2 linked regions of the Homo sapiens genome follow. The protein of the gene in region 1 interacts with the protein of each later gene in a pairwise test. Each region holds a gene or a part of one and is shown in the gene's direction. Other genes may lie near its edges. The genes, in order: PIGF and MANBAL.

The links.
Region 2: the proteins of PIGF (region 1) and MANBAL interact in binary tests that used the Homo sapiens proteins (3 or more experiments, as listed by UniProt).

What each region holds. Positions count from the first base shown.
Region 1 is NC_000002.12:46,586,042-46,598,550, reverse strand, and holds part of PIGF (GPI ethanolamine phosphate transferase, stabilizing subunit), read left to right. Parts: intron 1-2,314; exon of another isoform or gene 2,315-5,193; intron 5,194-5,967; coding exon 5,968-6,076; intron 6,077-6,625; coding exon of another isoform or gene 6,626-6,643; exon of another isoform or gene 6,644-7,404; intron 7,405-10,371; coding exon of another isoform or gene 10,372-10,476; intron 10,477-12,509.
Region 2 is NC_000020.11:37,290,814-37,303,322, forward strand, and holds part of MANBAL (protein MANBAL), read left to right. Parts: intron 1-6,482; exon of another isoform or gene 6,483-6,721; intron 6,722-7,949; exon of another isoform or gene 7,950-8,066; intron 8,067-10,357; exon of another isoform or gene 10,358-10,394; 5' UTR 10,395-10,450; coding exon 10,451-10,600; intron 10,601-11,466; coding exon of another isoform or gene 11,467-11,487; exon of another isoform or gene 11,488-12,509.

The sequences.
Region 1 (12,509 bases):
AAAAAAAAAAAAAAAAAAAAATCTCATAATGTTTTAAGAAAGTTTATGAATTTGTGTTGGGCCACATTCAAAGCCATCCTGGGCCACATGTGGCCTATGGGCCGTGGGTTAGAGAAGCTTACACTAATATATTTTCTATCTCTGTAGATTTGCCTAGTCTGGACATTACATACATGGTGTTTTAAGTAGAATGAGAAGTAAAGAATCACCAGATATTTGAGGAATACGTCAAATAAAATCCAGAAATGAAAACAACAAAAAAGAAACTCAGGGGAAATAGAGGCAGTATATAAAGACAGAAGATAACTTAAAAACTTACTTTTTTTTTTTAAAGTTTACCATAAAAGGTGAACAGGAGGCAGTCAAAATGCATATTCAGAGAACAAGAAAACTTTTGGGGAATAAAAATACTCAACGGAAGTAGAGACAAAACTTGAAAAGATTCCCTAGTCAAACAAAAAGGTAAAGATTGCAAAATGAATTAAAAGATAAAAGCAGAAATTAGTTCAAAATAATAGTATACCTAGCAAGAGTAAGGGAAAAATTCTTAAGTGATCTGATCAAACAAGGTCTTTAAGTAGAAGACAATTTTAAGAACCAGAATACCTGAGATTTTAGATTAAGAAGGCCCATATATTTTCAGCATAGTGGATGAAAAAACACTTTAAAAAACATTTTTGTGAAATTTTTGATAACCAGCAATAAAGAGATCATTCTAAAAGTTTTTAGAGAATGAGAGAAACATGATACCTACAGAGGACGGGAAACCAGAATGGCACTGAACTTCTCAAGTGGGAATCAGAAAACATTGGAGCAGTGCCTTCCAAATTCTGAGGCAGGGCCAGGCGCTGTGGCTCACGCCTATAATCCCAGCACTTTGGGAGGCCGAGGTGGGCAGATCATTTGAGGTCAGGAGTTCGAGACCAGCCTGGCCAACAAGGTGAAACCCCATCTCTACTAAAAATACAAAAATAGCTGGGCATGGTGGCAGGCGCCTGTAATCCCAGCTACTCGGCAGGCTGAGGCAGGAGAATCGCTTGAGCCCAGGAGGCAGACGTTGCAGTAAGCCAAGATCGTGCCACTGCACTCCAGCCTGGATGACAAAGTGAGACTTCACCTCAAAAAAAAAAACAACAAAAAACCCCCCACAAATTCTGAGGCAGAATGATTCCCAAAAATTACAGTAAAATCATTTTCAGACTTAAAACATCTCTAAGCATCTATTTTCCATGTACCCTTTCTCAGGAATCTATGGAAGGAGGTGCTGAAAAAGAAAATTCCTTTCTCAGGAATCTATTGAAAGAGGTGCTTAAAAAGAAAAGAAAAAGGAAGATAGATGGAGGAAGTCTTGGAATTTAGGAAAGAGCAGATCCAAAAGAACTGAGAGAGGCAAAGGGAATTCACAAGATGCTCGTGCAGGGACCCCACAGCACAGCAGTTTTGCAGCAGTCCTAGGTGGCTCCAAAAAGATGGAAGGAGCGGGGAGAAGAAATCAAGCATTTAGAGGTACTACTTAGCTTCTTTGGAATATGTGAAAATTACTTAATGACAGGTACGTAAGCAAACAGAGCAGGGAAAAAGAGGCAGTTCTTAACATCCATGGACAATTAAAGATTATATTTACTATGAGAAAAGAAATGTATAATTGTGGTTTACTGTGTGGTTCACTGTGATTAGCAGTTTTATAATCATCATAACGTAGACATTACTATTGATTCGGTTGAAAGGAGGAGATGTTACCATTGTAGAAGGGGCGTGAGTCAGGGAGAAATGTGTATGTGGAGGTAGGCAGCTTGTAGATAAAAGGTGCTAAATCTTCTCCCTTAGAAGAAGGCAGAAAGTAAGTTAATCTTGAAAAATCTATACTTAATTTATGTTTTTTTTTTTAATTTGAGGTAAATAGAAGAAGCAGCAAAAAGAGTTGAAAATATCTGTCTTGGAGCAGACATCAGGAGTGGGGAGGGATGGAAGAGGAGACTACTATTTTTATTATTAGTTTAATTGTACTCCTTTACTTTAAAGATGTCACATATATTATTTTGATAAATATGAAATTTTTACTTTAAAAACAAGCTACAGAGTTTTTCTATTTTTAAAAATAGGTCTCAGTTCCATTTTTTCTACATTTATTATATGTAGGATCATAAACACTTGGCTACCACAAAATAGAGGGCAACCTCTTGGATGATCATATTTTTTATTTTAATAAACATAAGATGGCCACAAGTGTGCTGGAACCGTGAAAAATGTGAAGGCATGGATTTTGCCTCTTAGCCCAAGGAACTTAGAACTTAGAGGTTAGAAAGATACATACATCAATCTTTTTTTTTTTTTTTTTGAGATGGGGTCTCGCTCTGTCGCCAGGCTGGAGTATAATGGCATCGTCTCGGCTCACGACAACCTCCGCCTCCCGGGTTCAAGCGATTCTCCGTTCTCAGCCTCCCGAGTAGCTGGGATTACAGGTGCCTGACGCTGCGCCCAGCTAATTTTTTGTATTTTTAGTAGAGATGGGGTTTCATCATGTTGGCCAGGCTGGTCTCGAACTCCTGACCTTGTGATCCGCCCGCCTCTGCGTCCTGAAGTGTTGGGATTTCAGGCGAGAGCCACCGCACCCAGCCACATAAATCTTATTGAAACATCTCTGATCGTAAAGTTGCGTTGATTGAAAACCTTCATGGTTCCTTAGTTTGATATTTAAGAATTTTCTAAAATCCTAACCCTAAATCTATCACCATGATACCATTTCACACCAATTACGATGACTGTAATAAAAAAAAGATAATGACAAGTGTCAGGAGGGTGTGGAAAAATTGGAATCCTCATACACTGCTGGTGGGAATATAAAATGGTTCAGCCATTTTGGAAGAGTCTGGTAGTTAGTTCCTCAAGTGATTAAATATAAGAGTTTCCATAGGACCTAACAATTCCACTCCTAGGTGTAATCCCAAGAGAGATGAAAACATATGCTCACACAGAAACTTGTGCATAAATGTTCATAGCAACATTATTCATAATAACCAAAAAGTAGAAGCAACCCAAATATCCATCAGCTGTTGAATAGATAAAATGTGGAATATCCCTTGAAGGGAATATGATTGAGCCATAAAAAGGAATGAAATATTGATACATGCTGCAACATGGATGAACCTTGAAAACATTATGCTAGGAAAAAGAAGCCAGTCATACATGCTTTATGATTCCATTTATATGAAATGTCCAGAATAGGCAAATCCAGAGAGACAGAAAGTAGCTTAGTGGTTGCCTAGGGCTGGGAGGAAGGAGAAATGGAGAGTGATTGGTAATGGTTAAAGAGTCTGGGGATGATGAAAATGTTCTAAAACTTACAGTGGTGATGGCTGCACGACTCTGTGAATATACTAAAAACCATTGATTTGTATACTTGAAATTAGTGAATTGTATGGCTAGAAAGGATTTTCTAGGATAATTTTTGACTCTACTCAATAAAGCTATTTTTAAAAATCCTAACTGTGGAGACCAGCCTGACCAAAATGGTGAAACCCCATCTCTACTAAAAAAAAATACAAAAAATTAGCCACCTATAATCCCAGCTATTCGGGAGGCTGAGGCAGGAGAATCCCTTGAATCCGGGAGGCGGACGTTGCAGTGAGCCCAGGTTGCGCCATTGCATTCCAGCCTAGGCAACAAGAGCGAAACTCCATCTCAAAAACAAAAACAAACAAAAAAAAAAACGGTGAGGGCCGGGCGCAGTGGCTCACACCTGTAATCCCAGCACTTTGGGAGGCTGAGGCCGGCGGATCACAAGGTCAGGAGTTCGAGACCAGCCTGGCCAACATGGTGAAACCCCATCTCTACTAAAAATACAAAAATTAGCCTGGTGTGATGGCACACACCTGTAATCCCAGCTACTCAGGAGTCTGAGACAGAAGAATGGCTTGAACCCGGGAGGTGGAGGTTGCAGTGATCCGAGATCACTCTATTACACTCCAGCCTGGGCAACAACAGCGAAACTCCGTCTCAAAAAAAAAAAAAAAATCCTAACTCTGCCCTACTTTTCCAGCCTTATTTCTCGTTCTTCCACGTGGCCTCTAGCAATCTGACTTGTGTTCTCTTGTCTGCAGTGCAGCTCTTTTCTCCAGTCCTCCAGTTTAAGACCTGATGCTACCTATTCTTTCCAATCCAGCTGAACTTCCTCCTGTTCCATAAAATAGAAAAAGTGAATTCTTCCCAACAGAAAGTAATCTCTGCTCTCAACCTCTACCACACCTTATGTTTCCAGGCACATCACTTTATGTATTACAGTATAGAGGAGGTGTGTGTTAAGTTGAAGCTTAGTCATCATTGTCAGCCACATGTAGTCAAAAATTGGCCTAGGAAATCCTTTAAATTGCTAAAATAGTACAATTCCCTTTACATTGAACTTGGCCAGTTTTTCCTTCCAACATTGGAACACATCTCTGTTCTATTGAATGCTAGTTGAAAAAGCTGACTTATATTTATAGGTGTTACATGAAATAAAAAAGAATAATAAAGCCCTACAAATAGTACAAATTTGGATATATGTGATTGGCTCCAGCCCGTTCTTAGCCCTGCTTCTCAATGGAAACAAGCTAAGGCTCTTATCTTGTGTAGTTGGGGAGTATGAGATGGAGGATGATAGAGGGATTGGTTTGTGAACTGACTTGTCATCATTTGGGACTTTTAAAATTCAGTGTACATTTTGCGTGTAATAATTGGCCTGTTTCTAGTTAAATAAATCATCTAACAAAACAAATGTTTTCCCCCATACTATCTAGAAGAGGCTACTTTTCAATAACTTCACCTTGCAATTTAAACAATTGAATATTTGGACCCCACTTAGTGCATTGCAGTGGGCTTTTACCTGACTGTAACCAGACTCCTGTTCTACATGATGAAGTGTTCACCCTATGAGGGCCAGGCTGAAACTAACACCTACTAAGAGAATGGCAGAATTAAGTCTTTCCACCTTTACACTCTCAGATGTGCACTTAGTAAATAGGAACGGTAGGCAGAATCACCAGATCTTTTGAAATACTTTGTTCTTGTTCTCTGCCTGTTTCTTGCCAAGTAAATTGAATTGGTTTATATAAATGAAGTGTGCTGTAAGAAAGACTAGTTGAGGCCGGGTGCAGTGGCTCATGCCTATAATCCCAACACTTTGGGAGGCCAAGGTGGGTGGATCACAAGGTTAGGAGTTCGAGACCAGCCTGGCCAACACAGTGAAACCCCATCTCTACTAAAAGTACAAAAATTAGCTGGGCATGGTGGCACACACCTGTAATCCCAGCTACTCAGGAGTCTGAGGCAGGAGAATCGCTTGAACCCGGGAGGCTGAGGTTGCAGTGAGCCGAGATCGCTCCATTGCACTCCAGCCTGGACACAGAGTGAGACTCCGTCTGAAAAAAAAAAAAAAAAAGAAAGACTGGTTGAATAAATGATGCACCATCCATACAATGGAATACTGTTACAGCTGTTAACAAGGAAAAACAAGCAAAACTTGGTTTATAACATGATGCATCTGAGTTTTGTTTTGAAGAAATATACATATGTACATGTGTATTTATGCAAATGTACATATATCCTTCAAAACAAAATTATGTGTGTATTTGTGCCTGTATAAAATATTTCTGGAAGAATATGTAATAATTTAGCATAATAGCAGTTGCCTGTGGGGAAAGGAACCAGGAGTTGATGATAGGGGTGGAAGACTTAGCTGTTTCTACAAATGCTCTTTAACATGGTTTGACTCCTAGTGCGTCTGTATATTACCTTTCCAATGGAAAACATTTACATCTTCTTACCAATTAACTATTAATAGTTCATGGTAAATATGTATATGTCATTTTGAGATTTTCATTTTAAATTAGCAGGAAATATATGTATACTGATAATGTGTGCTAGTGCTTGTTGGATTCTCCAGCAGCTCATGTATATACCACCAACGATGTACCAATTTGTGTTTCACAGAGTTACATCCATATGGGAGAATAGTCTCCAGATCACTACAATTTCTAGCTTTGTAGGAGCATGGCTTGGAGCACTTCCTATTCCACTGGATTGGGAAAGACCATGGCAGGTTGGTTTCAGTTACTTAAAGCAACAAAATAAATGTTTGTACAATGATAGTAAAACAGATGAAGCAAACTAGTGTGTATATGTAAATTGTTTTGTTGTTCAATTAAGTAGGGATACCACTTCTATCAGTCACTGTAATCTGGGCAGCTTCTTAATGGGGACTGTCCAGTGCCACAGGTGTCTAGGTAGCCCTGGTTTTATCTTCTAGCACTATTTTTTGCACATGTGTAGATGAATAAACAAGCTTATTTTGTGATTGTATATAGGCGGTTTGTTTATTGTTTTTAAAAAAGACAGGTTCTCACTCTCTTGCCCAGGCTGTCCTCTAATGCTTGGGCCTAAACGATCTTCCTGCTTCAGCCTCCCAAGTGGCTGGGACTACAGGTGTGTGCCACCGAGCCCAGCCAGTATAGGAATTTTTAAAAACTAGGTTAATAGCTGCAGAAATTTCCTATTTTCAACTTTGATATTTATTGCCCTTGTGGTCTTATATTCATATTTTCTGAACTTGATTGATGGCCAAATTGAATGTTCCTCTTGAAATTTTTAGAAGCAGATAGCAAGGTAATTTTTGCAGCAGCGGCCTGTGTTATCAAGAAAGCTCACAAACATCAGATTTTTCGTCTTGTATCACAATAAGATAAAGCTGATATGCTAGGTAAAGCACTGTGAGGTAAGTGCTCTTTTTATACCCATTTTACAGATGAGGAAACTGACACCTAGAGGGTATGTAACATTCCCAAGGTCACTGAACTTACAGTGATGACTGTATCTTTATCTTAATATTAATGACTTTGTAGTATGCCATTATATACTTTATAACTTATTTAACAAATTCACTATTGATCATTTAGATTATTGCCAGTATTTTGTGATAATAAACACTGCTGTGATAAAATCTTTGAATCTATAGCTTCTTGAATTTTTCTAATTAGGTTCACAGAGTAATTACTCCCAAAAAGAATTATGGTATTAAAAAATAAATGTGCTTTCTTTTTCCAACATGAAGATAATTTTTTTCTGATCACGAAGATAATGTATATTTATTTAGAAAATTAAAGCAATATTAGTAATTCTAAGGAAGAAAGTAAAAATTACTTTCCTCCCCAACCACCCAGAGGAAACCTCCATTTGCTTTTGGTGATAATTTTTGCAGCTGTCTCTCTCCATGCCTGTAACTATAATATTCATGTTGTTTTTAATCTGCTTTTTCCCCTCAGCAGTATATTATGGAGCTCATTCTATGTCAATGAAAACTTACATATATGTAATATTCGATTATTTGTGTAAAATATTGTACCAGTTTTTTATTAAAGAACATTTAGGTCATTTCCTATTTTACTATTATTATTTTATTATCAAATATGGTCATTATCATACTTATACATCTTTGCATATTTGTCCAATTTTCTCTGTAGGGTAGAGTCCTACCTAATGAATTGATGAATTAAATCTTTGATACATACCTCATTTGCCAAATGTGGGATCCAGATTGTGTGCCTTGCACATAACTGCCTACATTTAGCTCTATTCTTTGTGCTTTCAGTTAGATGTCGTGTCTCCCCGAAAGTCAAATTGTTGTTTCATGTTTAATAGGTCTGATAGGTTTGCCCTTCCCTGTTTTAACTCTTCATCACTATATTAGAGAAATCCTTGGAGGTTTGGTGTGTGTATCGTCACAGATTCCCATCTCAAGTTTTTGGTGCTAGTAAAGGTTTCTTAAGTTGACATCTTATAGAAGTCATCCATACTTGATGTCATTCAACAGAGTGTCAGTGATTTCTAAATTGGAGGACAATCAAAATCATTGAAAAGTATACACAGAAAATTGAAACTGTGTAGATTCATTGCTATCAAGTAATGCAATTAAATCTAAATAGAAAGTATTGATAAATAAAGTACTATGGGACATTAGCTTTAATGAGTTGGTAAGATATAATAATCATTTTGTATATGATGCAATACATTAGAGTGTAAAGGTTTGATATATTACACATAATTTAAGTCTTTTCTGTTTACAAGACAGTGCAGTAGTAGAAACTGAACTAAGAGGAATGAATATATGTGCTTTATAAAATATGTGTTTAGGTTTGCTTAGAAAATATATATCTTAATTATTTACAGTTCAGTCACCCATTTTGGGATTGTTCAGGCTTTTAGCTGATGACCCATTTTTCTCCCTCAGTGCTTGTTAACAATAAGGATGAACTAGATCCAAATTGATGGTATTACTTTTTAAATTAATGTAAAGTTTCCATTTGAATTACTGACTTTTTAAAAAGATTTTCTAGGTAGCTGGAAATTAATTTAATTTTAAATCTAATTTAAATACATAACAAGTGTTGGTTTCCATTAAGAGTGTTTCATTCAGCTGGAATATTACTGGCCATGTAATTATCTTTACTATTGGGTTGTTTTTAGAATATTCCAAGTTAATGACCCACGTATTCACTGTAAACCTTTTAAATTATGAAATGTATTGTTGAGGGAATGATAGAATTGATGTATAATTAAAAATCTTTTATTCATATAGCACTCATCTGCTCCTTGCCCTTTTAGCAGTTATTTACTAATAAACTAAAGAAATGAGGTTTTTTTTTCACTTTTTATTTCCAGCAAACAAGGTTGTTTGTTTTTTTGTTATTGTTATTTTTTAATAATTCTAACTCCACAGAACAGCATCTCCCAGAGAAGCAATAAATCAGATAAGGGAATATGGCATTTTCTAAAAGTGGAGATGTTGTTAGAGCAAAATTTCATGAGAAGACAATACAGTATACACTTTATTATCTAAAATAGAACATGTATTAAGAGATTCTTGTTCTGTGTTCCTTGTAGCCCAATACCGATTTGATCTGCTTGTGGTAAAGCAAGCTTTTCTGGATTGTGTTCTGGTTTTATTTATATTCCAGTCAGAGAAACAGGAATATCTGGTTAAGCAATTGTACCTTTAAAAACACACACATGCACACACACACACAAAACCCCACAAAATCTACTACATGTTTTAATTCAGTTTTCTTTACTTTGAACTCAAACCATTGTATAACATTCCTGAGGCCAAGCATAAGATTATAGTGATGTGGATTCTGTAATGAGCTGTTTCAAGCATATTTTTATGTTTAAAATAATTTCTTCATTAAATGACTGGAAAGGCCCACTGAAAATATGTGATCTCAATGTAAAAGTTTTTTAACTTAATATAAATCTTAAGTGATTTTAAATAATGGCAAGTGATGAAAGATTAGGCATCTTTATAGTTGGAGGAAGCCTTTCTTTTGTAGAAGGCAGCAAGGGGATATGGTTAAAGAGAATATGGTAGGGTAGCTACCCATTATACTGTTGGTCATCTTTGTTGTTGTTTTAATACTTTAAAGTCATCTTCTTGCCTCTACCTTATTTGCCTTAAAATCTCAGCAAGAAAACAAATATTTGAATTTCCCATAATCCAGATAGGCTTTTTCAACTTCTAGAGAAAGCTTATAGTTGCTGACAAAATAAATATTTGGACTACAGAAAACCTTTGTATTTTATAATTTGATTCTTTATCTGCTGTAACTAAATAGCTAATCAATAAGTATTTGTTGTTATTACTGTATGCATAGCATATGTTCTGTGTAAGTAAGTACAACAGATACTTAAATACACCCAGGACTGGAATTTAATTATTTAATAATTTAGATTTGAACTGTGATTTAGATTTAATATGCTGTAACTATTTCATAGAATATGTAGCTATGAGGTTTTTCATCTGGAAAATGTCTTGTCAAAACATGGCTAGTATTTCATGTTATAAAAAATTAGTGGAAGGTTAAGAAATATTGTTGGTTATTCTGAGCACAGGAAATTGACCATGAGGTTTTTAAACTCACGTTTTATTAATGGGTAGGCAGGTAACATGATGATTAGGAGTTCTGGCATCAGATTACTGGGTTGAAATCCTGGCTTTGTCACTTGCTAGTGAGGATGAAATAATAAAATCCCTCTAAAATACCTAGCTCAGCACCTGACACATGGTTATTACTTAATTAATGTTACAGGCATTTGTGACCTAGAAAAGACATAGTTTAATGACTATATTTTTAGCCTTCAAAAAATGCAAATTCCATGATTTATTTGAGTTCTCATATATTAGAGAATATGTTAATTGTCTCAGTTTGTTGTTTTATTTTTTCTGCCCAGCAGTCTTTCAGTTGGTAGAGTGGACTGTTAATTTATCTATTTCTCTGGTATTTAGTTATGCCAATTTAGGGTATTTGGATTTCACATAATTTTCAATCCTGTCTGACATTTCAGATGACAGTAGAAAGAAAACGTAGCACTTATAGATCTCTCCATGTACCCTGCAGGGGGCTTGGTACTGTGAAATGAGTAACTTAATCCTGACAACCGTAGTGCAAGGTAGGTTTTACTCCCATTTTATACACTAGAAAGTCCAAGTGTGAGAGGGGAGGAGTACACATCTTGCTTAGCATTACTCAGGTGGGAAGAGGGAGACTTAAGATTCACATGAGAGCCCCACTACACCATGATTCTTTTCATTGCTGGAAACTAAAACATAGCTTTTCTTTTTAAAAAATGGTCATAGCTTAGGTCTCTTTGGAATAGCTAAATTACTTATTATATTTCATTTCTTTCCCCACATTGTTTTCATTACATGCCTTGACCGTTGTGGTGGTGTCTGTATTTTAGGCCGTAATTTATTTGTAGGAGAATATTTAAAGCTAATATGCAATGATTTTGTCCCTAACAAATCCACACATGCCTTTAAACTATGGACTTCAGTGCTACAATCTTTAAAAATATTTGAACCAAATAATCAAGTCTCGGCTAGGATGCTTATTTCTTACGAAGGTAAAAAGGAAAATTGATATAAAGTATTTTAAATAACTGAATTTGGAGATTTTGAATTTTAGACACCTGAGATCGTCTTTGAAACAATTTAAAGTTGTTTTAAAATATTTGTACTTATTCTCAACAGACACCAGATAAATGAGGCATTGTTGTATTTAAAAATTTTTTGGGTTTTTTTTTTTCAGTTTTACCACGTTAGAAATCTAGTATTTGTGAAATATGTATATTCATTTCCTAAAGTCACAGATGCCACAGATAATTCTTTCATAAGTTGAAACTAGGAATCATAGGATTATAACTACATGAATTACTGCAAAATGCTGGAGGGAGATTAAAACTAAGATTATGGATTTGATTGATTGAAGAGCTGCAGGTTTTTACGTTAATTGGTATTTCCATTACCAAAGGGATGATACTGTGTTTTAGACCAAAATAAAATACTCATTTATATGAATATGGTTTGTATGTTTCAAGCATGAGAAAAATGTGTTAACATTGAACTGGCATGAAATGGTTTTGGATTGAAAAGGCGTGTTCATCGTAGGGTAATCATGTTGATAATGCTCTGCTAACAGGACTTTCATGTTAGAGAGAATAATGCTGGCCAAGTTAACTCGTTTGCACGAGTTGTGACCAGAACCTTTTAGTGTCATTTTGACAAGAATTCCAGACCAGGAACTACACACCCCTTCGCAAATAACTCTTCCTAAAGTAGTATTCTTAGTCACAGGAGAGTGTATACATGGATGAGTGTAGATTTTTAACTAGAGAAATGTATCCCAATGAGTAGATTCATTTGTGCATGTATTCCTGTATCAGACAATAACATTTACTTTAGGAATATCTGGAAAAACATACTGTTCAAGACCAATTTTGGAGGAGAATATAAATGATTATTTATAACCAGTAGGTCAGCAGGCTTTGAAAGATGAACTCTCTCAGTCATGCAAATGCAAATTTGTGATAAGCACAATTAACAAAACAAACATATTGAAAAGTAGCTCATGAGAGATTGAGAACTGGATTTTATCTTCCTTTTTATCTCGAGAGAGACAGTAATCCTAATGGTTGTGAGTTGTTCTAAATGTCTGTAGGTGTTCTGATTTGCAGATAGGTCAGTTTCTCCATGTTATCTGTGACAGTGTAAATCTCCCCCAAAATTATAAGTAATATTTATTATATTGGAACACATTTTTAAGAATTTATACTAAAATGTATCCAAAATTAAATAATTTAATCTTAGTTTACACCTTTAACTGCTGGGTTAAGGTAGGGGCTCCACAAATAGTTTCGAATGAATGGAGTCATTCATATGAGCCTTTAAAAATTAACACAAATGCCTACCAATGATTAGTTTAAAACCACTATCTGTACTTAAAATTTTGTTTCTTCGAATTTATGAAAAATGACAGCTAGCAGCAGGGTAACCTTCTGAGGTAAGGATACAGATGGTTAACGTAATGCCAGTATGTTGTACAGCTCCTGAATTTGCTCTTGTAACAGACATTTCACATGAAGAACAGCATGTATTAAAGATGATTGCTTTATGGCTGGGCGCGGTGGCTCACGCCTGTAATCCC
Region 2 (12,509 bases), on another chromosome or scaffold:
TTCCTGCCTGGTCTTGAACTCCTGGAGGCAAGATATCCTTCCTCCTGGACCTCCCAAAGTGTTTGGGATTACTGGCAAGAGCCACTGTGCCTGGCCTAAAACAGTAACTTCTGACACTGGTTTCTATTCCCCAGTCTGTTTTCAGCTGAATTTTCACAATAGAATTTAAAGTTACTTCATTAGAAGCCAAGAATGGCCTACCAGCACAGTACACAACATTGGGAGATGAAGGCCTGTGGCAGTCGTGAAATCTGAGTTTTTCAGTCTTAAGAGAAGATTTAGTATTTGCTAAGTCTTGAGAGCTATACTTGTCTCAGTGGTTTTTTATTTATTTGTTTTGAAATGTTGACCCATTCTTTTTTTCCCCAATAACCTTTTTGTTTTAGAATAATTTTAGATTTACAAAGTTATCGCAAAGATACTTCAGTGAGTGCCCATATAGCCCACGTTTCCCCTATTACTAATATCTGAAATGTCACAATTACTGAACCAATATTGATACATTATTATTAACTCTAATCTGTACTTTATTCACATTTCCTTAGTTTTTCCCTAATGTCCTTTTTCTGTCCTGGTATTATCCAGGGCACCCTATTACATTTAGTCATCATATCTCTTTAGGCTCATCATCTCTGTGATCGTTTCTCAGACTTCCCTTGTTTTAGATGAACTTGAGGGTTTTGAAGATAGTACTGACTGGTCAGATATTTTGCAGAAGGACCTTTAATTAGGATTTGCCTGTTTTTGACATGAGTAAGATCAGGGTAATGGGTTTTTGGGGAGGAGGACCACTGATAGGGTTCGGCTGTGTCCCCACCCAAATCTCATCTTGAATTGTAGCTCCCATAATCCCCCCATGTTGTGGGAGGGTCCTGGTGGGAGACAATTGAATCATGGGGGTGGGTCTTTCCCATGCTATTCTCCTGATAGTGAATAAGTCTCAGGAGATCTGATGGTTTTATAAAGGGCAGTTCCCCTGCACACACTCTCTTGCCTGCTGTCACATAAGACATGCCCTTGCCTCCCCTTTGCCTTTTGCCGTGATTGTGAGGCCTACCCACCCATGTGGAACCGTGAGTCCGTTAAACCTCTTTTTCTTTATTAATTACCCAGTCTCGGGTATTTCTTCAAAGTGGTATGAAAATGGACTAATCCAACCACAGAAGTAAAGTGCTATTCTCATCACATCATATCAAGGGTACATACTATCGATATGAGTTATCATTGTTGACATCTGTTAGCTTGAGCCACCTGGCTTGAGGTAGTAGTCAGGCTTTTCCAGTGTAGAGTTACTTTTCCTCCTGCACTTTCCGCACTGTACTTTTGGAGAAAGTCATTATGTACAGCACACATTTAAGGAGTGTGGAATTATGCCCCATGCTTAAAGGCAGAGTATATAATGCAAATTATTTGGAGTTCTCTGTGGGAAATTTGTCTGTTCCCCTATTTTTTGCTTACAGAGTCATATATTTGTATCGGTGTGAACTCATGGATTTGTTTTGTTTTGAGACAGGGTCTCCCGCTGTCGCCCAGGCTGGAGTGCAGTGGTGCAGTCTTGGCTCACTGCAACCTCCACCTCCCGGGTTTAAGTGATTCTCCTGCCTCAGCCTCCTGAGTAGCTGGGATTACAGGCACCTACCACCATGGCTGGCTAATTTTTGTATTTTTAGTAGAGAGAGTTTCACCATGTTGGCCAGGCTGGTCTTGAACTCTTGACCTCAGGTGATCCACCTGCCTTGGCCTCCTGATTACAGGAATCCCCTCTCCTGGGATTACAGGCGTGAGCCACCATGCCGGGCCTGAACTCATGGATGTTTATTTTATACTTTGGACCAGAATCCAGTACTACTTTATTTTGTTGCTGAAATTGTTCCTCCATTGGCCATTGGGAGCTCTTCCACTTGGCTCCTGTATCCCTTTGACATATCCCCCTCTATATGTTTTGCTTTGTTTTGTTTTGTTGAGCACTTTCTTTCTATTCCAGACTCATCTGGTATGTTTCTGCCCCAGTCCTAGAATTAGCCATTTCCCAAGGAGCCCTGGCTCCTTTTATTGGAGAATGGCCCAGAAAACAAGATCTGGGCTCTAGGTATGCTCAGTGCTTCTCAGTGTCCTTGCTTCTAGGCCTTCGCAGTGGACAGAGTAAGAGACATACGTATATATGCACAGATCTAGAAGTATTTCCATATATAACCACCTGTATCTACGTTCAGCTAAACATAACTGATGTCCAACTCTTATCCATGACTGCATGGATTGTTCTAGCTTGGCAGTCCCCAACCTTTTTGGCACCAGGGACCGGTTTCATGGAAGACAATTTTTCCACAGACCTGGGGGTGGGGATGGTTTTGGGATGATTCAAGTGCATTACATTTATTGTGCACTTTATTTCTGTTACTATTACATTGTAATATATAATGGAATGATCATACAACTCACCATAATGTAGAATCAGTGGGAGCCCTGAGCTTGTTTTCCTACAACTAGACAGTCCCGTCTGGGGGTGATGGGAGACAGTGACAGATCATCAGGCATTAGATTCTCATAAGGAGCACACAGCCTAGATCCCTCACATGCACAGTTCACAATAGGGTTCGTGTTTCTATGAGAATCTAATGCAGCCGCTGATCTGATAGGAGGTGGAACTCAGACGGTAATGTGAGTGATGGGGAGCGGCTGTAAATATAAAAGAAACTTCGCTTGCTCACCTGCTGCTCACCTCCTGCTGTGCGGCCTGGTTCCTAACAGGCCATGGACTGGTACTGGTCTGTGGCCTGGGGGTTGGGGACCTGTGTTCTAGCTTCCTTCTCTTGCTTGTCTGTAACCTCCCACTCCACCTGTGACAAACCCGACTCCCACCATTCACCATACATTTACTTAATTGTTCCATTTAGCATACATGTATGGTGGTTTTAGAATTGCTCCCCCGATCCCCTGTGGGAAACAACTTATCAGCTAGAGTACAGTGTGTACGTGCAGTTCCTTTTGCCTTCAGTCTTACAGGCTCCACTCGTTTTCAAAGTTACTTAGGTCAGCACCCTATTCCCCCACTACCCTTTCAGTGAAGTTGTTTAATACATTTGGATTCAGAATGTCACATTCTGCATTCCATCCTGGAACACCCTGACTTCATGCGTGTGTATGTTGGTGTGTTTTAAAAACTGGGTCTCACTATGTTGCCCAAGCTGGTCGCAAACTGCCGGGCTCAAGCAATCCTCCTGCCTTGGCCTCTCACAGTTCTGGGATTATGGGTGTGAGCCACTGTGATGGCCTTCCTATGTCTTTTTAAAAATATTTGCATACATTAAACTTTACTCTTTGTGCTGTCAAGATTTTTGGGTTTTGACAAATGCTTAATATTTTGTATTCCTAATTATAGTGTCATACAGGATAGTTTCCCCTTCTTCAGGGATTATTTTTAACTTCTTTCAGATTTCACCTCAGCATTCCTGTTGGCCTTCACCAAAATATATCTGTAAGCTGAGAATTTACCACCTCCACAGCTACCACCCTGGTGCAAATGTGTCTTTTGACTGTTAAAGTAGCCTCTTCACTGGTCTCCTTGCTTTCAGTCTTGTCCCCTACAGTCTGTTGTCAACAAAGCAGCCAGAGGGATCATTTTGAAATGAGTGAGACCATGTGATTTCTTTGCTAAGAACCTTCCAGTAGTTCCCTTTTCACTCAGAGACTGGCCAGAGTCCTCATAATGGCCTGCAGCTTGCTTACTTGACTGTTCTTGATCATGATGCTTATTCCTGCCTCAGGGACTTGGCCCTTGCCGTCCCTCCATCCTGGGATACTCTGGCAGATGTTTAAATGACTTCTTCCTTTGCTTTCTTCTTTCCTCTGTTGAAATGTCACCTTTGCAGAGAGGCCCTTCCCCGACCACCTCATATTAAATAGTACTATCCTCTTCTTCCTTCCTGTATGTATTGTAATACTCACCCCTGACATTGCATGTGTATGTGTGTATGTGAGTACTTCTAACTGAATGGAAACTCCGTGGCAGGGATTAGACCAGTGCCTGGCACATAGTAGATTCACAATAAATATTTGTCCAATGAATTAATGTCTTACGTCACCAGTGTCTGGCATTCAGGGGTGAACTTCGCAGTGTCCAGTAACCTCATGAAATTATTTGCCACGTTCAGTAATAATTAATTATGCACCTTTTGTTAAATTCTGATGGGGTATGAAAGTCCCCTGGTGTATAAAAACCTCTACCTGTAAGCAAGTCTGGAGCAGGACAGGGCTAGAGACCAGGATAGCAGCTCTGCCCTGACTCATCAGGAGAGTCTAGGGAAACCTCGTGGCCTCTCAGCTCCTCCTTGTCGTTAAATGATGACTCTGTTGGTTGAGGCATCTGCTCTTGCTTTCGAGGTGGGAAACAGAGGCATAGGCTTAGTCATTTACCAAATATTTATGAGTCAGGACCTGGAATAAACTCAAGATGTACCCAAGATCCTTGCTGTTCAAGAGATTACAATGGATCAAATAGAAAACAGTAGATTCCAGTGTAATATTTCTCAAACAATAAGAAATAACATTCTAAAATTTGATCCAGCACATGCATGCTCAGATGTAGATGGATGTTGAAAAAGCTTCAGGATATAATACCGGCCCTTAATGTGATACTCTTTGATATTTTCTATTGTTATTTACCTACTTAAATAAAGTGCTGGCTAATAAAAAATGCTGGTTGCAGCCCCCTAAATGGTTTTCCTGGCTCACTAATGGGCCACAGCCTGCAGTTTGAAAACGATTGACATACTGGGTAAGCGCCCTGACTCTGGGGAAGCCAGCCCCTTTGAATCTTGCCTTTGCCACTTATCAGCCAGGTTATCCCTGGGTAGGTCATATAACCTCTCCAAGCCTTGGTTTCCTCATCCTCATTAGTAATACCACCTCCCAGTGTGGTGGTGAAGTATGCGAGTTGCTGCCTGTAAAGTGCTGTTCGCAACACCTGGCCGTTCATTTGCCGACTGCTGCTGCTGCTGGAACAATGGCCAGGGAACAAAACCTGTCACAGCCAGTCGAAGGGGTGTCTCCTAGTTGAGATCTGCAGGATGAATAGGACTTGTTTGACTTTGGTCATCAGGAAAGGAAAGCCCAGAAATACTGGCAGGAGGGCTGGGAAGTAAAGCACAGAGGTGCAGAGAGAACTAGATGAGAGCCGTACGGCGCACAGTGTGTGTAGAGCAGTTTATGTTTCCAGAACCTTTTCACAACCACCCTCCTGTTACACCTGTGCTGTCCAGTAGGGAACCTTTGGCCACATGTGGCTTTTTATTGTTAATTAGTTAAATAAAATGAAAAATTCAGTTTCTCTGTAACATTTAAGTTTTCAACAGCCACATGTGGCTGGTGGCTACCATTTGGAGAACACAAATACAGAACATTTCCATCACTGCAGAAAGCTTTATTGGACAGTATGACATTATACCCTAACAAAAGTCTTGTGAAGGAAGTAGGTAGGGCATAGATTTTTCTTAGATACTTTATTGTTTCATAACATTCCAAAAAATTAAAACTCATGACTTATTCACCTTAACAGCAACTATTTATGTTTCTGTAGCATCTTTTGATCTTTAGCCCATGAAATCAGCTTATAGATGGTTCCAATCATAGTGTTTATACAATTGCTTATTTTTTTCAATTACTGTTACTTTGCAAAGACTTTCCACTGACCTGATACACAATGTTTATATTTGCCGGGTTAGTGAAGAGGGATTATGCCATGATGTACCATCACTGGGTTAACTGCTTCCTGATTGTTGGACGCCTGGGTTGCTTCCTGTTTTTCAGTATTATGAATAGTGCTGCCATGAACTTTTTTGTACCTGAAGGCTTTTTCTTCTTTTGAATTGTTTCCTTACTATAAATTCTAGGAAGTAAGTTATTCAGTCAAAGGATATAATCACTTTTATGGCTCTTGTTATATTTTGTCTAATTGCCATTTTTTAAAAAAAGGCCTAAATGTATTATAGGTATCATTGTTGCTTGGCTCATGAGAACATCCCGTCTCCAGAGGTCAAGAGATTATTAGCCCAAAGTGTAGCTACTTGCAGATAGAGCAGGGGCTTTTGTCCTCTGCTTCCCAACTCTTGCCCTATCTTTCTATTGTACCACTCCAAATATTTCTTATCACAATGTTGCTGTTAGTAGTAACACTAGTAAATCTGAGTATTTATAAGCTCATAAAGCTTGTTACAGCCTTAAGCAAAAAGCTTGGGGCCAAGGGCGTTTTAAAAAATGCACACTTTATGAGGTGCAACTGCGGAGAAATGAGGACGCGTTCTTAAGCTTTGGTATTCACATGGTGGTGGTGCTGGTAGAGGCTGTTACATTTCTTCCAGTGAAGCTGTTCTTGCAGCCGCCTTGGAATTCACTTCAGGGCCAGTTTATGAGCCACCCCAAGTAATCTGCTTGGAGTCTGAGCATCATACCTTGTATTTGACCAAAAATGGTATTCCTGAGCTCAGTGCCACCTGATTCACTGCACTTGGAACCAGATGATGTTGGGCTCTTTCCAGAAGTCAAATCCTTCCTGGGAGGATGAAGATCTGCCAGCTCTGAGGATTCTGGCTGGGAAGAAAAAGAGCCTCAAGCTTTGAAGGCCATTCCCATGGTAGACAGAGCTGATGTGAAAAGTGGCCATCCTGTTGCCCCAGGCACATGACCTTCTGAAGTGACCAGGCTGAAAGGGAAGCAATACTCGTGTGTAAGTCCGGCTCTGTTTACTTACGAAGGTTGTTTTTATTATTCTTCGGTTACTTCATGTTGGAAACATGGTGCAAAGCAGTGAAGCAGCAGAGCCAAGGTGGCGGCAGGCCTTTTTTTTTTTTTGAGATGGAGTTTCACTCTTGTTGCCCAGGCTGGAGTGCAGTGGCGTGATCTCGGCCCACTGCAACCTCCGTCTCCCGAGTTCAAGCGATTCTCTTGCCTCAGCCTCCCAAGTAGCTGGGATTACAGGCACCTGCCACCATGTCCGGCTAATTTTTTTGTATTTTTATTAGAGACGGGGTTTCTCCATGTTGGTCAGGCTGGTCTCAAACTCCTGACCTCAGGTGATCTGCCCACCTCAGCCTCCCAAAGTGCTGGGATTACAGGCGTGAGCCACTGCGCCCTGTGAGGCAGGTCTTTAGGATTGTCTCTACCCCAGGGCTTCCCCACAGAAATATAATACAGACTATGTATAATTTTACATTTTCCAGTAGCCACATTTAAAAAGCAAAAAGGGATGATGCCTGTAATCTCAACACTTTGGGAGGCTGAGGCAGGAGGATCACTTGAGCATAAGAGTTTGAGGCTACAGTGAGTTATGTTTGTGCCATTGTACTCCAGCCTGGGTGACAGAGTGAGACCCTGTCTCTAAATAAATAAATAAATAAATGGGTAAAAAGAAACAGATTTTTAAAAAATTGTGACAAAATATATGTAACAAATTTACCATTTTAACCATTGTTAAGTTTACAATTCAGTGGTATTTGCAGTGTTGTATAACCGTCATCACTGTCTATTTCTAGAACTTTTTCATCTTTGCAAACTGAAACTCTGTACCCAGTAAACAATATCTCCCCATTTCCCTTCCCTCCAGCCCTTGGTAACCTCAATTCTACTTTCTGTCTCTGAATTTGCCTATTCCAGGTACCTCATATAAGGGGACTCATACAATATTTGTCCTTTTGTGTCTAGCTTATTTCATATATATTTATTCAAAGCTCATAATGTTTTCAAGGTTCATTCATGTTGTAGCATGTATCAGAATTTCATTTCCTTTATGGCTGAGTAATACTCCATTGTATGTATATACTACGTTTTGCTTATCCATTCATCTGTTTATGGACTCTTAGTTGTTTCCATCTTTTGGCTATTGTGAATAATGCTGCTATGAACATTAGTATCTTGAGTCCTTGCTTTCAATTCAATTTTTTTTTTTTTTTAAACAGGATCTCTCACCCCGTCACTCAGGGTGGCGCAATCACGACTCATTGGCTCACTGCAGCCTAGACCTCCCAGCTGGAGCAATTCTCCTGCCTCAGCCTTCTGAGTAGCTGGGACTACAGGTGTGTACCACCATGTCCGGCTAATTTTTAAATTTTTTATAGCAACAGGGTCCCACTCTGTTGCCCAGGCTGGTTTCAAACTCCTGGGTTCAAGTGATGCTTCTGCCTTGGCCTGTCAAAGTGTTGGGCTTACACTTTGGGCGTAACCCACCATGCCCAGCCAATTATTTTTTACGTGTATTTTTTGGTGGCAGGGTGGGGTGGGGGCAGGGTCGGGTGGGGGCAGGGTCTCGCTCTGTCACCCAGGCTGGAGTGCAGTGGCGTGATCGTGGCTCACTGCCTTAAGCTCCTGGGCTCAAGTGATCCTCCCACCTCAGCCTCTCGAGTAGCTGGGAATACAGGAGTGAGCCACCACTCCTGCCTAATTTATTATTTTTTTTGTAGAGATGGGGTCTCGCTGTGTTGTCCAGGCTGGTCTCAAACTCCTGAGCTCAAGTGATCTGCCCACCGTGGCCTCCCAAAGTGCTGAGATTATAGGCGTGAGCCACTGCAATCGTTTCAGCATGTAATCAATATGAAAACATTATGAATGAGATAGATTACATTCTTATTTTCATACTAGGTCTTTGAAAATGGGTGTGTAATTAGCATCTCAATTCAAACTAGCTGCGTTTCAAGTCTTAATAGTCATGTGTGGCTCATGGCCACCATATTGGATAGCTCAGACTTAGCAAAATATTGCATTGTGGCACAGATCTCTGGAAACACAAAGGGTTTTAGATTCAAGTGGGCCTGGTTCCAAAGTAAATTTGCCCCTTTATCATTGGGATGGGCAGAAGAAAGCCACTGATGGGTGCTGTGGTAAAGGGGGAGCAGTTCAGTCATGCCAGGGGAAGAGGAGGGTGACAGGAGAGGCATGTTGGGGAGATGACACTTGAGCTCAGCCTTAGAGGCAGAGTGGGGGCTTTGTCAAGCAGTCACAGTGGGAAAGGACATTCTTTGCAGAGTATGCAGCTTGGGCAGAGGCCCAGGATTTTGAAAGAGCCCAGTGCTCTTGGAGAACCACAGCAGTTCTTTCAGCTTGACTAGGATATTAGGAGTGGGGGCCCTGCTGAGAGGAGAGGCTGGAGAGCTGGGCTGAGGCTGGACCTTGCACCACTGGCCACCACTGCCCCTGTCATTCACGCCATCAGCAGCTCTTGTCTGGCTTATTGGCAGGGGCCTCCTCCTGGCTCTCCCTGTGTCCACTTTGCCTCTCCCCTTGTTGTCCCTCCTCCATTTAAAAATGGAAGTCAGATCATGTCACTTTTCTGCTCAAAACCCTTCAGTGGCTTTACATTTTACTCAATCAAATTGGAGGTATCAGGGTCCGCCCCCACTCCTCTCTGATCATACCTCCTTCCACCCTCCCTCCTGATCACTTCTCTGCCTGTACTGGCCTCATTTCCCCACCCTGGGGCCTCCACACTTGCTTTTTTCCCTGCCTGGAACGTGTTTCCCTCAGATACACAAATGGCTCCCTCTCTCACTTCTTATCTCTTCCACTCCATTCCCGTCTCTGTTCTTCAGAGAGAGCCTTCTCATCACAAAATAAAATGATGCCCTTAAGTTTTTTCCAAAATGCTTATCACTACCTGGCATATCACATCTCGACGTGTTCATTGTCTGCTTCCATCCTGAGCATGTAGAGGCTCCAAGAAAGCAGGGGTTTGTCTGTTTTGCTCATTCTTCAGTGCTTGGTATTCAAGAAATATTTGTTGAATGGATGACTACATGAATAAATAAACAACAAAACCTGAAACGTAGCAGCCTTTAGTAAATGTATGTTGATTTGAGATTTTTGTTGAAGTGCTTCCCTTTGCATTTATTTATTTTTCTCAACTTTATGTTTGGAAAACATCAGATACACAGAAAAGTTGAAAGAATGGTTCATTGACTGACCATATGTTCCCAACTTAGATTCAAGAGTTGTTAACATTTCACAATTCCTGTATATATTCTTGGGTGTGTGTGTGTGTGTTCAAGTTAAAAGTCAGTTACAGGCTGGGTGAGGTGGCTCACACCTGCAATCCCAGCACTTTGGGAGGCTGAGGCGGGCAGATCACCTGAGGTCAGGAGTTCAAGACCAGCGTGGCCAACGTGGTGAAACCCTGTCTCTACTAAAAATACAAAAATCATCCAGGTGTGTTGGCCCACACCTGTAATCCCAGCTACTCGGGAGGCCAAGGCAAGAGAATCACTTGAACCCAGGAGGCCGAAGTTGCAGTGATCATGCCATTGCACTCCAGCCTGGGCGACAGAGTGAGACTCCATCTCATAAATAAATAAATAAATAAATAAATAAATGTCAGTTACAGAAATATGACACTGACCCTTTGCATTTACAAGTTGGTTCTAAAGAGTGGTGAGTCAGAAGAGACGTCAGGCAGCAAGCGACTTGGGCCATGGCCTCTGACCTAGACTTCTCACCTCCGGAGGTGCCCGAGCCCACTTTCCTGGAGAACCTGCTACGGTACGGACTCTTCCTGGGAGCCATCTTCCAGCTCATCTGTGTGCTGGCCATCATCGTACCCATTCCCAAGTCCCACGAGGCGGTGAGTTTTTCCCTGGGAGCCTCAGCTCCTCTGAGTGCCAGGCTGGGTTCTGAGTACTAACAGTAGGTGCCACCACAACTGAGATCAGCAGGGTCTACATTGGGCCTTTTTGATTTAGTGTGCCTCTGAATTTCCACCTGGTGGGTTGAACCACATAGCTAATACTTTATTTGTTCATGTACCCATTAAGGAGATTTTTATTTAGTGCCTACTACATTTCAGACTCTGCTGAAGATGTAGTGTCTGCACCTGAGGAGCATCTAGTCCTTGGGAGGAAGGCAGATAACAAAAACATACCTCCATGTGCTCCCATGAGAAGTACAGAGTCCAGTGAGGCTATATAACAAGGGGGAGAGAGACCTGATCTTACCCTGGGCTGTGGGCCCTGCCGAGGAGGCAGTGTTTGAGCTGAGACTGAAGGAATGAGCAGGCTTCTGCCAGGTGAAAGTGGGCAAGGGGCGAGGACAACATTCCAGGGAGAGGGCACTGCACGTGCAAGGGACTCAATAAAGGAAGGGGCTAATTCAAGGAACTGAATGAAGGTGACTGTGGCCAGAGCACAGAGGGGGCATGATGAGTGGTGCAGCCAGAGGTGTGGGCAGGGGCCAGAGGGTTTTAAGTGTGAGAATGACATGGTCAAATTGGCTTTTTTGTTGTTGTTTTGACTCTTCTTCTGTAAGTATCTTTATAACTATACACCCTCCTTCTACCCACTTTCTTGCCCACTCCCATTTGCTCGTGACATTGATTTATTGGAGAAAGCAGGTCGTTTGTCATGTGGGATACCTACATCCCAGGAATTGGCTATTGCTTCTCTGTGGTGTCATTTAACGTGTTTCTCTGTTCCCTGTGTTTCCTGTCAACAGGAGTTCCATGTAGAGGCCTGATTCCATTCCAGTCAGGTTATTGGGTACGAATACCTCAGAGCTGGTGCTATGTACTCCCTACTGTGTGGCATCAACAAGCAGGTGGTGTCTGGCTGCTGCACATTTAGAGATTCTTGGATTGATCGGTGGGTTTAGGTGGTATCAGCTGATCCCTCCATTATAAAAATCCGGTCAGTCTTTCACCTAAGCGGTTTTAGCATCCATTGATGGTCGTTGCTTAGATCCATTATTTCCTTCTGCATCTGTTAGCTGGAATTCTTTAACAAAGACCTTTTCCTTATCACTTGTATGATTACTCTGAATTGCTCTTCATAATGAAAAGCAGGAAAAATGCTTGGTTCTTTCCCTTTATTTATCAATTTTCAAAGTTGTGAGTTCAGACTCTAGCAACTTCCAATGATGACCAATGAAGCTTTGGTTTTCATAGCATTCTGAACATATTTTTAATATATTTAATATGTTTTAGTTTTTTTTTTTTGAGGGCACTTATCTGCCATTAATTTGTTTTTTATGTTCAGTGGGAGCCCCTTTAAGTTGATGTCTTTGTTCTTTGTCATACTTCATTAGTCTTTGATAGCTTCCTTGCTTCATGGTTCAATAAGATGTCACAGGCTCTTTTTTGTGTGTGTGCGAGACAGGGTCTTGTCTGTTGCCCAGGCTGGAGTGCAGTGGCACAATCACAGCTCACTGCAATCTCTGTCTCCCAAGTTCAAGCAATTCTCCTGCTTCAGCCTCCCAAGTAGCTGGGACTACAGGTGTGCCACCATGGCTGGCTAATTTTTGTATTTTTAGTAGAGACACGGTTTTGCCATGTTGCCCAGGCTGGTCACAAACTCTTGGGCTCAAGCCATCCACTTGCCTTGAGCTCCCAAAGTGCTGGAATTATAGGCATGAGCCACTGCGCCTGGCCCCAGGCTCATTTTGTACATTTCCTGCCCCAGTCTTGGAATCAGTCATTTCTCTAAAATGCTCTGGTTCTTTTTAGCTAGAAAATAGTATCTAGAGGCTACAGTTGGGACATT